2 separate regions of the Homo sapiens genome follow, and region 2 is linked to region 1. Evidence: fine-mapped expression QTL. A gene starts in region 1. The other region holds a variant in brackets. All regions are shown on one strand. Distances are from middle to middle. Region 1 holds the start of PIF1 (PIF1 5'-to-3' DNA helicase). Region 2 has its middle 6.0 kb from the start of ANKDD1A.

The links. PIP is the estimated chance that this variant, and not a neighbour inherited with it, causes the effect.
Region 2: its variant is the best candidate, but not a certain one, in a credible set for the expression of PIF1 in blood mononuclear cells (TOPMed, PIP 0.84).

The regions. Positions count from the first base shown.
Region 1 is chr15:64,823,588-64,828,960 of GRCh38, forward strand. PIF1 (PIF1 5'-to-3' DNA helicase) reads right to left here and starts at 2,060. Exons shown (of 13, transcript NM_001286496.2): 1 at 1,982-2,060; 2 at 191-767. The coding sequence starts at 748. RefSeq lists a silencer at 145-634 and enhancers at 336-1,003, 2,193-2,322.
Region 2 is chr15:64,903,181-64,908,535 of GRCh38, forward strand. No RefSeq gene overlaps it. Among named protein-coding and RNA genes, the nearest start is that of ANKDD1A, 6.0 kb to the right of the region's middle. The variant G/T (reference allele first, on the strand shown) is at 2,739.

The sequences.
Region 1 (5,373 bases):
GATTTACTCCATCTCAGGGATTACACTATAACAACCACAGGCACAATTCCCACACCCCTGTCATACTGAGATGTCAGATGGGTATCAAATACCCACACCGGCTTCCCCTCAAACTTGGGTCTCTAGGTCTCTGCCATCTTAAAGAATGGCACATCTACTCCTAAAGGTGTCCCTTCTTTCCCGTCCTCACTGTGCTAGGCTCGGCCCCAGCCTGGGGCTCCACAGGCCGCTTCACCAGCGTAGTGTCCGGAACCCGGGTGGCCGCCCTGAGCCGCCGCTCCTCGGGCTGCACAGGGCTGATGGTGACGAAGTCGCGGGGCCGCGGGCCCAGCAGCTGCGCTCGGGCGGAGGCCGGCCCGGGACCCGGGGCCGCAGCCAGCTTGAGGCGCAATGTGCGCAGGAAGCGGCGCAGGCGGTCTGGGGGGCAGTCCGAGAGCAGCAGCTGCACTGCGCCGGCCCCGGGGGTGTCGTGGGCGGGGAGCCGCAGGGTGCTGCGCCCGGCCTCGGCGAAACGCGTGAAGAGGCGCGCGGCGCGCAGAGGAAAGCAGCGCGGCCGCCCCGCGGGCCCTGGCGCTTGCAGCCGCAGCATCAACTCGCGGCGCTCGTTGCGACCCAGGCTCAGCTCCGCGGTGCGCAGGGCCTGGCGCCTTCGCGGCTGCCCGCCCGGGCTCAGCTCCTCCACAGCCACGCGGCACCGCAGCTCCGAGTCCTCATATTCCCCTGCCGCCGCCTCTATGCCCGAGAGCATCGTCACCGCCTCTGCTGGTCTGCGAAGACACCGGAGCACAGGGGTCATGAGGATTCATGAGACGTAATGGGTGCTATAGGGGACGTAATGGGTGCTATAAAGGACGTGACAGGGAGCAGGGTCAAGGCTACACAAGATCACGAGGACTGTCACTGGTAACACAAAGAGGTCACAAAGACGGAGAAAGGGCTTTGGGCTAACCGAAAATCCACCCTTAGAATATGCCCTGGGCCGGGCGCAGTGGCTCGCGCTTTAATCCCAGCACTTTGGGAGGCTAAAGTGGGCGGATCACCTGAAGTTAGGAGTTCTGAGACCAGCCTGGCCAACATGGTGAAACCTCGTCTCTACTAAAAATACAAAAATTAGCCGGGCGTGGTGGCGGGCGCTTGTAATTCCAGCACTTTGGGAGGCTGAAGAAGGAAGATCGCTTGAGCCCAGGAACTCGAGACCATCCTGGGCAACATAGCGACACCCTCTAATTAAAAAAAAAATACATACATATAAATACATACATATGCATACATTATATATATGTGTGTGTGTGTGTGTATATATATGTATATATATATATACACACACGCACCCTGCTACACAATTTCCATTTCTATATATCCAATTTCTATATATATATACACACAATATATATACAATTTCTATATATATACACACACACACACACACACATATACACACACACCGTGCTACACAACAATTTCCAGAGCGGCGGATGGGCACCGAGGATTAGGGAGCCTCAGGTGTCCTGCAAGGACCTCACTAGAACAGGGGTCCCTGCGCAGAAAGAATCCTCCTTCCCCGAGACCCAGGGCGAGCACATGAATCCTCAGAGTACTCTCCCCAGGAAGCAGGAGAATCGCCCGTGGGGAGATGCAAAGAGGGCTGCCGTGTAATAAGCGACTTCTGCCTTGTAGGTACATTCACTGGCTTATATGCAGCGGGCAGGTCTCACTCTTCCCCGTGTACAGACGTGGAAACAGGCTAAGAGAGGGAAACTCACTTGCCCTTCATAAGCCACAGCGGCTAGTAGTCAAAGTCAGTGTGATTCCCATGCCCTCGCGCTTCCCACCACCAAGGTGGGGACGAGGTGGAAAATATTCGGCTAGGGAAATCGCGGGGGACCCTGGGACCCTAGAAGCCGTGCTCCCTCAGGCTGACCCATTTGTTTGCACCCTCCCGCCGGAAACCCCTAGATAAATCAGGCTCTTTGCTCCCCACCTCTGGGTTCGGGCAGACACTCACTTGTGCCGACACTCAGATGAACAAGCAGATCGTAGCCGGCCTGTGGCTAAGCTCCGAAACTAGAAATTTTTCAAATGCTAGAGGCAGAAAATCACCCAATCACCGACTGGATCTTTAAATTCTCCAGCCACTCAGAGGTAGGGGCGTAACAATGGGCGTGTCTTTCTTTGCGTCTCTACTCCAGGAGCTTGGGCTGTACCAATTGCCTGCTAGAGGAAGGAGGTTTATGGTGGTGGCTGAGCATACCAAATCCAGTGGACGGCTGGGCGTGGTGGGAGGAGGCCGCCGCTGCGGCAGCCACCCGGCGGCGCGTGGTGTCGGGTCTGAAAACCCTACGCGACTCCGAAGATTTATTTTCAGAACCATCCTTCCAGCACACTCCCTCTCCCCTCTAGCCCGCACACAGAGGCTGGGCTTAGCCTTGGGGAAGATCTGCCTTTGGACTCTCACACCCCTGTTTACACTCACAGTACCATTGTCCAGTTCTGGGCAGACCACCCCAAGGCCTGCCCAATCCCTCCCCCGCCCCCAACTCTACATCCTTCTCTGCCTTTGTAAGGGACTTTACGCTTTGGCTCTCTCACCCACCTGAGGCCCATGAGTGAGAAACTCTGAGACCTGTGCCACGTGCCAGAGGGTACAGCGGAAGCGAGTAGAGTCTCTGTCTTCAGGGAAATTGTATCCCTCTTCTTGCACAGGATGCTGAAAGAATTTACTTTTAATCATCTTTATTATCTCATTGAAGCTTGGAATTACATAGCTGGAAAGGATCTTACAGGTGAGTCTGGCTACCTCATTTTACAGATAATGATAACTACCATGGATTAAATTGCCCTTTCCTTTCCTTTTTCCTTCTTAGGGCTCACTCTGTCGCCCAGGCTGTAGTGGAGTGCAGTGGCACAATCTCTGCTCACTGCAACCTCTGCCGTGGCGCGATCGTGGCTCACTGCAACCTCCGCCTCCTGGGCTCTGGTGATCCTCCCGCCTCAGCCCCCCAGGTAGCTGGAACTACAGATGCACACCCAGCTAATTTATATATATATATATATATATATATATATATATATATATATACACACACACACACATATATACACACACATATATATACACACACATATATATATACACACACATATATATATATACACACACATATATATATATAATTTTTTTTTCGTATAGACGGGATGTCACCATGTTTCCCAGGCTTGTCTCGAACTCCGGAGGTCAAACGATCCACCCACCGTGGCCTCCCGAAGTCCTAGGATTACAGGCATGAGCCCGGACCTTATTTTTCAAATGAGAAAAAAGCAAGGCTTCCAGAGATTTTACTGAAGGTCACATAGCTGATATGGAGAGCAAAACCAAACATTGAACCCAGATTACCTGCTCGCTTAATCACTCCATGGGGCTTAGCTACTACACCACACTGCTCCCAGTCTGTTAGCGGTAGAGGGTGATGACTGAAAGTTGTCCAGGTTCTTGGCGTTTTGAACAAAGAATTGGACAAAATGCCCATCAAAGCAAAGAAAGAATGAAGCAACAAAAGAACAAAAGCAGGAATTTTTTGAAAACGAAAGTACGGCTAGGCGCGGTGGCTCACGCCTGTAATCCCAGCACTTTGGGAGGCCGAGGTGGGGGGATCACTTGAGGTCAGCAGTTCCAGACCACCCTGACCAACATGGTGAAACCCTGTCTCTACTAAAAATACAAAAATTGCCGGGTGTCGTCGTGGACATCTGTAATCCCAGCTGCTTGGGAGGCTGAGGCATGAGAATCACTTGAATCCAGGAGGCAGAAGATACAGTGAGCCTGGATCGTGCCGCTGCACTCCAGCCTGAGCGACAGAACGAGAACTTGTCTCAAAACAAACAACAACAACAAAAAACAAAAACGAAAGTACACTCCACAGTGTGGGAGGGGACCCGAGATACAGAATTTTCTTGGGTTCAAATACCCCCTAGAAGTTTCCCATTGGGAACTTTACGCTTACTTCATGTAACTGAAGTGGTAGCGATAATCAGTCTGATTGGTTGCAGACAGCAACCATTCAGCCACCATTCAGAGGCTGGAGTGAAGTTACAAAGTTGCAAACGAAGACTGGACCCACACTCCTATGATTTGTTGCAGACAGCCAATCTCCCATCTGCCAATCTCCCATCTGCCATGCGGGAAACGTCAAAGGGAGTAGCCTTTGGTCCTTTTGTTCTTGTCCTTACTTAGGAGTGGAAAGTTAGAGTTTTCCTTTTTTTTTTTTTTTTTTTTTTTTTTTTTTGGGAGACAGCGTCTGGCTCTGTGCTCTGTTGCCCAGGCCGGAGTGCAGTGGCAGGATCTCGGCTCACTGCAACTTCTGCCTCCTGGGTTCAAGCGATTCTTCTGCCTCAGCTTCCCAAGTAGCTGGGACTACAGGTGCGTGCCACCATGCCCATTTAATTTTTGTATATTTGGTAGAGATGGGGTTTCACCATATTGGCCAGGCTGGTCTCGAACTCCTGACTTCGTGATCCGCCTACCTCGGCCTCCCAAAGTGCTGAGATTACAGGCGTGAGCCACCATGCCCGGCCAGGGTTTTCTTTTTTCTTCTTCTTCTTCTTCTTATTTTTTTGAGGTGGAGTCTCTATTTGTTGCCAGGCTGGAGTGCAGAGGCGCTATCTTGGCTCACTGCAACCTCTGCCTCCCCCATTCAAGCGATTCTCCTGCCTTAGCCTCCCAAGTAGCTAGGACTACAGGTGCATGCCACCATGCCCAGCTAATTTTTGTATATTTAGTAGAGACGGGGTTTCACCATGTTGGCCTGGATGGTCTCAATCTCTTGACATTGTGATCTGCCCGCCTCGGCCTCCCAAAGTGATGGGATTACAGGTGTGAGCCACTGTGCCCAGCCGGGTTTTCCTTTTAATTTAATTCTAGGAAGTCGGCGTGAAACAGCCTTAGGTTCCCTGCCTCCAGACCCTGTTCTTCTGCCTCAAGGTGACTGGCCTAGCTTCATGAAAGGTATAACCTGGACTGGAATCTCAGCTAGTAACAGCCACTGCAATGCCTTTCCAGTGGATGCTACCCTAAGCAGGTTTCCATAATGTCTCAAGCCTCTGTTTTCTCAAAATGGGAGAAAGATAAAAATAGTCTAAAATTGATTGGTGATAGTTGCACAACCCCGTGACTATACTGAAAACCATTGAATCGAATGCTTTGAATGCTTAAATTGTATGGTATGTGAATTATATCTCCATAAACCTGTTAGAAATCTTTTTTTTTTTTTTGAGACAGGTTGTCACTCTGCCACCCAGGCTGGAGTACAGTGGCACAATCATAACTCACTGCCGCCTTGACCTTCCTGCTCAAGTGATCCTCCCATCTCAGCCTCC
Region 2 (5,355 bases), 80 kb after region 1:
GGGCCCTTGGGTTGTTTCCAATTGTTTGCTATAGTTACGGAACAGATCGCAGTAGACATCCTTGCATCTTTATGTAATTACTGCAATTATTTCTATGGTGTAGATTCTTAGAAATGGAGTTGTTGGCATGAAAGGTATGTACATTTAAAAAATTCTGATAGCCATTGTCAAATTGTTTCAGTATCTGGTCCCATCTTTCCCTCCACTGCTCTTTGTTTTCATAACATTGCTGTCTGTTTTTATTGTTGTTGTTGTTTTAAGATAAACTTTAGTATCATTTTGCCAAGTCTTATCAGGCTGTAGTTTTGAATGAGTACAGGGATGAATTAGCTACCACATCTGCCTTGACAAGTTCAGTTGGCCAGGCGCTGTGACTCACGTCTGTAACCCCAACACTTTGGGAGGCTGAGGTGAGAGGATTGTTTGAGCCCAGGAGTTCAAGACCAGCCTGGGCAACATAGGGAAACCTCATTTCTGCAAAAAAAAAAAAAAAAAAAAAAAAAAAAAAATTAGCTATGCGTGTTGGCACATGCCTGTGGTCCCAGCTACCTGGGAGCCTGAGGTGGGAGGATCGCTTGAGCCCTGGAGATAAGGCTGTGATAAGCCATGATCTTGACACTGTATTGCATTCCAGCCTGGGTGACACAGTGAGACCTTGTCTCAAAAATAAATAAATTTAAAAAAAGTTCATAGTATGGCAGGGATTGGGGTTGGGAGGGTGCTTTAGTGGGAGCTGGAGCAGAAGGTGACAGCTGCAAAACAGTTACTTGCATCTAGGCCAGGGATACCACGGAAGGCTTGACCATGGGTTCTGGGAACCCTCAGGAAAGGGGCATTTTGAGTTTGGAGCAATCTGGGAGCCCTCTACAGAGGAGGTTTCATGCCTAGTCTTTGTAGTGGTTACAGAGCACTTTCTAGAACAACAACTGATTGAATTCTCACAATAGCCCTTTGCATATAGGTAGTGTTATTATCTCCACCTTCCAGATGAGAAAACAAGTCTGGAAGATGAAGGTCTTGCCTGACTCCAGCCTGCCAGCTCTTAGGTGCCTTTTCCTTTTCTCTTTTCCTCGCTTCCCAAGCATCTCTCCCTGACCCCCAACCTCCTGTCCCCCAACTTGAGCCTCACTGGCTGGGCTGGCAGAGCCCTGGGCAGAGGGCATGCTCAATGACACTGCACATGGCTGTGCTACCTTCTTAGAGAGGACACACATCCGGTGCATTGGGCTTTCACAACAGGCTGCACCCTGTCCCTGCTCTGGGACCCAGATCACAGAACTGCCTCACCCCTCAACCCAACAACACCAGGTCATCTTATCCTTTCTCCAGGCAAACACCTCTCTCCCTTCTGCCTGTTAACCTAAAAAAATCACGGGAACAGAAAACCAAATACCGCCTGTTCTCACTTATAAGTGGAAGCTAAATGATGATAACTTATGGACACAAAGAAGGGAACAACAGACACTGGGGCCTACTAGAGGGTGGAGGATGGGAGGAGGGAGAGAATCAGGAAATATCACTACCAGGTACTTGGCTTAGTACCTGGGTGATGAAATAATCTGTACAACAAACCCCCATGACACAAGTTTACCTATGTAACAAACCTGCACATATAGCCCTGAACCTAAAACAAAAGTTAAAAAAAAAAAAAAAAAAAAAAAAAAGAAGGCCGGGCGCGGTGGCTCACGCCTGTAATCCCAGCACTTTTGGAGGCCGAGGCGGGCGGATCACGAGGTCAGGAGATCGAGACCATCCTGGCTAACATGGTGAAACTCCGTCTCTACTGAAAATACAAAAAGAAATTAGCCGGGCATGGTGGCGGGCGCCTGTAGTCCCAGCTACTCGGGAGCTTGAGGCAAGGGAATGGCGTGAACCCGGGAGGCGGAGCTTGCAGTGAGCCGAGATCGCGCCACTGCACTCCAGCCTGGGCGACAGAGTGAGACTCCGTCTAAAAAAAAAAAAAAAAAAAAAAAAAGACCTTTAGAATTTCATTTGGGTTAAATATTGCCCCCTTCCTGCAGCTTTTTAAGATGCGCATTCCTCTAACGGGAATCCATAGTAATTCCCTACTTTCTTTGCGAAAGTTATTGGATCTTTTCCCTCATTAGAAAGGCCCGAGTATGTCTGGGAATTAAACTGCCACTCAACCCCACATTTACTTACATCTTTACCACCGCGTCTATTCCTCTCTCACCCCGCCCCCATGGCCCAAGTCTTTAGCCTGGCATTCACGTACCCTCACTGGCAATCTTGGGGAAAGCCTCAGAAAATGGTACAGCAGAAAGCCCAGCGTGGAGGAGCCAGTTGGGAGACTCAGCATGTGGGCACCCTGCTTCTCTGCGCAGAGCCTCCTCTGTCATAGGTAGATCCAGCCCATCTCAGGTTACACTACAGTCTGTAACCCCTAGCCTCTCCCTCCTCGCGCCCCTCTGGCCTCCATCACTGTCGTGCCGGTCGTGGGGACAGATGGGAGGGAATTACGGTATTTACAGCTGCTCTTCGCCGGCTCTTGCTCCCCCGCGTGTCGACAACCGAAACTGCAGCGAGGCCCAGAGGCCTCTGCCCACTCCCCTCGGAGTTCCAGGAGGACGCTAAGCGCGAGAAGCCAGGCTCAGGGAAACTGAACGCCCATACGCTCCTAGTCCCTCTCACCTGGATCCTCTGCGTCAGGTTACGTGCTTGCGCTATTTTTCCTTTTGTTTCTTTAAATTTTTTTTGTAGAGACAGTGAGCGTGTGT[G/T]TGGGGGGGTGGAAGGGTAGGTCTCACCATTTTGCCCAGGCCGGTCTCGAACTCCTGGGCTCAAGCCTTAGCCACCTGCCTTAGCCTCCCAAAGTGCTGGGACTACAGGTGTGAGCCACCACGCCCAGCCTGTTTGCGCTGTTTTCTGAGGCTTTCCGCCAAATTGCTTTCTTTCCTGGCAAGAAAGTCACGCCCTAGAATTGGGGTGTCCCAGTGGACTGGCCGGGTGGTTGGATTGAAGGATGTCCTCCAACCTCACCTTCAGCTGTGGCCTGGCTGGGGACCCAGCACGTGGTTCAATGCCATGGGAATCACCTGTTTCTCCTTTGGAGCGAGTCACACCTGGAGGCCATTCTCAACTCTCCACAGCTTGTTGTATGTCCCTGAGTGAAGTATTAACCTCTCTGAATCTCAGGTGCCTCCTCCGTACAGTGGAGCTTCCATATTCTAGCATTTGCCTCACAGAGTTGTCAATATGATTACATGGGATAGTATAGGTTGCAGGTGGAGAGCTGGAGGATAATCACCGCCACCACACTAGGGCACTCATTGTGTGCCTGGGCCTAGGCATTTTGAAATAGCCCTATTAAAAAAGGATCATCCACAGATAAATTGAAGGTCAGAGAGATTTAGTGATTGCATGGGGTCACACAGCCGAGCTAGGACTGGACTCAGAAAGACATGGATACACAAGTGCTGGGAGATGTGGGTGGAGTCTGAGGTCTGTGAGTTTATAGCAGGTGTCCCCAACCCCCGGGCAGGACCAGTATGGGTTTGTGGCCTGTTAGCAATGGGGCTGCACAGCAGGAGGTGAGCAGCAGGCATTACTGTCTGAGCTCTGCCTCTTGTCAGATCAGCAGAGGCATTAGATTCTCATAGGAACATGAACCCTATTGTCCCCACATGCGATAGGTTGCTGCACTCCTTATGAGAATCTAATGCCTGATGATCTGAGGTGGAACAGTCTCATCCTGAAACCATTCCAATGGCCCCACCCCAACCCATGGAAAAATTGTCTTCCAGAAAACCAGTCCATGGTGGTAAAAAGATTGGAAACCACTGGTTTAGAGGGTACCTAGGGACCTGAAAAATAAACTGGCCCTGCCTCCCTTTGGTTAATGCTTTCTTCCTCTAATGGATTATTCATCACCTCTCAATCCAATGCTTGAGGGGCCAGGGACCTAAAAGACCATCCAGGCCTATTTCCTTATGGAGAGAGGGAAAGGACTTGTCCAGTTCCACAGCTGGGCAGTGCAGATCTGGATTGGAGCTCAGGTCTCTTAGTCCTGTGCTCCTGCTGCTCCTTCCCCCACTGGGTGAGCAGTTCTGCAGGGGGCTGCCACTCCTACCCACAATCAAACTGCTCACTTATTTGGAGCACCTGTTCAGGAGCTGCCCACTGGGTACCCCTGACCCCACTTGGCTGGGAGCTTCTGCCACTCCCTCCCTCCTCTCAAGCAGCTGATTGCTCTAAGCAGAGAGGAAACCAGTGCCATTCTGGCTCCCAAATGCTGGTACAAGACCAGCAAATATTTACCACTCTTGTGTGTGTGTGTGTGTGTGTGTATTTTTTTCTTTTGTTAGAAAAGGGCTAGCGCAATATATAACAAGTGATTCATGGTGGCGTCTTCTGGTAGATTGATTGTATTTTGTCCCTTCTTTTTTTTTTTTTTTGTTTTTTTGAGACGGAGTCTCACTCTGTCGCCCAGGCTGGAATGCAGTGGCCTGATCTCAGCTCACTGCAAGCTCCACCTTCCGGGTTCACACCATTCTCCTGCCTCAGCCTCCTGAGTAGCTGGGACTACAGGCACCCGTCACCACGCCCGGCTAATTTTATATATATATATTTTTTTAGTAGAGATGGGTTTTCACCATGTTAGCCAGGATGGTCTTGATCTCCTGACCTCGTGATCCTCCCACCTCGGCCTCCCAAAGTGCTGGGATTACAGACGTGAGCCACCGCTCCCAGCCCCTTCTTTGTATTTTAAAATTTCTTTAGTAATGAACAAACATTAATAAGACAAGAAATAAAAAGCTGTTTTAAAATTTCTCTTAAGCAAAAGGCCAACAATCATTTAAAAAATGAGTGGGATAAGAACAGATTGTTCTCAGGAAAAAAAAGAAAAGAAAACGGCTCTTAAACATAGAAACAGATAACCAACTTTTCTTGTAATGATAGAAATGCAAACTAAGATTATAATGAATTACTATTTCTTACTTATCAGATTGGGAAAAATCCAAGTTTTACAGAATGTTCTCCTTGGAAACAGGCACCCTCATACATTGGTAATGGAAATGCAAAATATTTCTGGACCTTATGGAGGAGAATTTGGCAATAGCTAGCAAAGTTATATGTGCATTTACCCTTTGACCAAGCAATCCCATTTATAAGAATAGATCCCATAGATGCACTGGTAAAAATACCAACTGATGCATGCATAAGGTTGGTCATTGTAACTCTATTGTAATAACAAAAGTCTGGAAACAGGGCCAATGTCCATCAACAGGGAGTGGTTGAATAAGCCACCCAATGGAGGACTCTGAGGCTGTACAAAGGATGCAGGAAGATCTCAACAGACTACTGCGGAGAGATCTCTGTAGTAGATTGTTCCCAGAA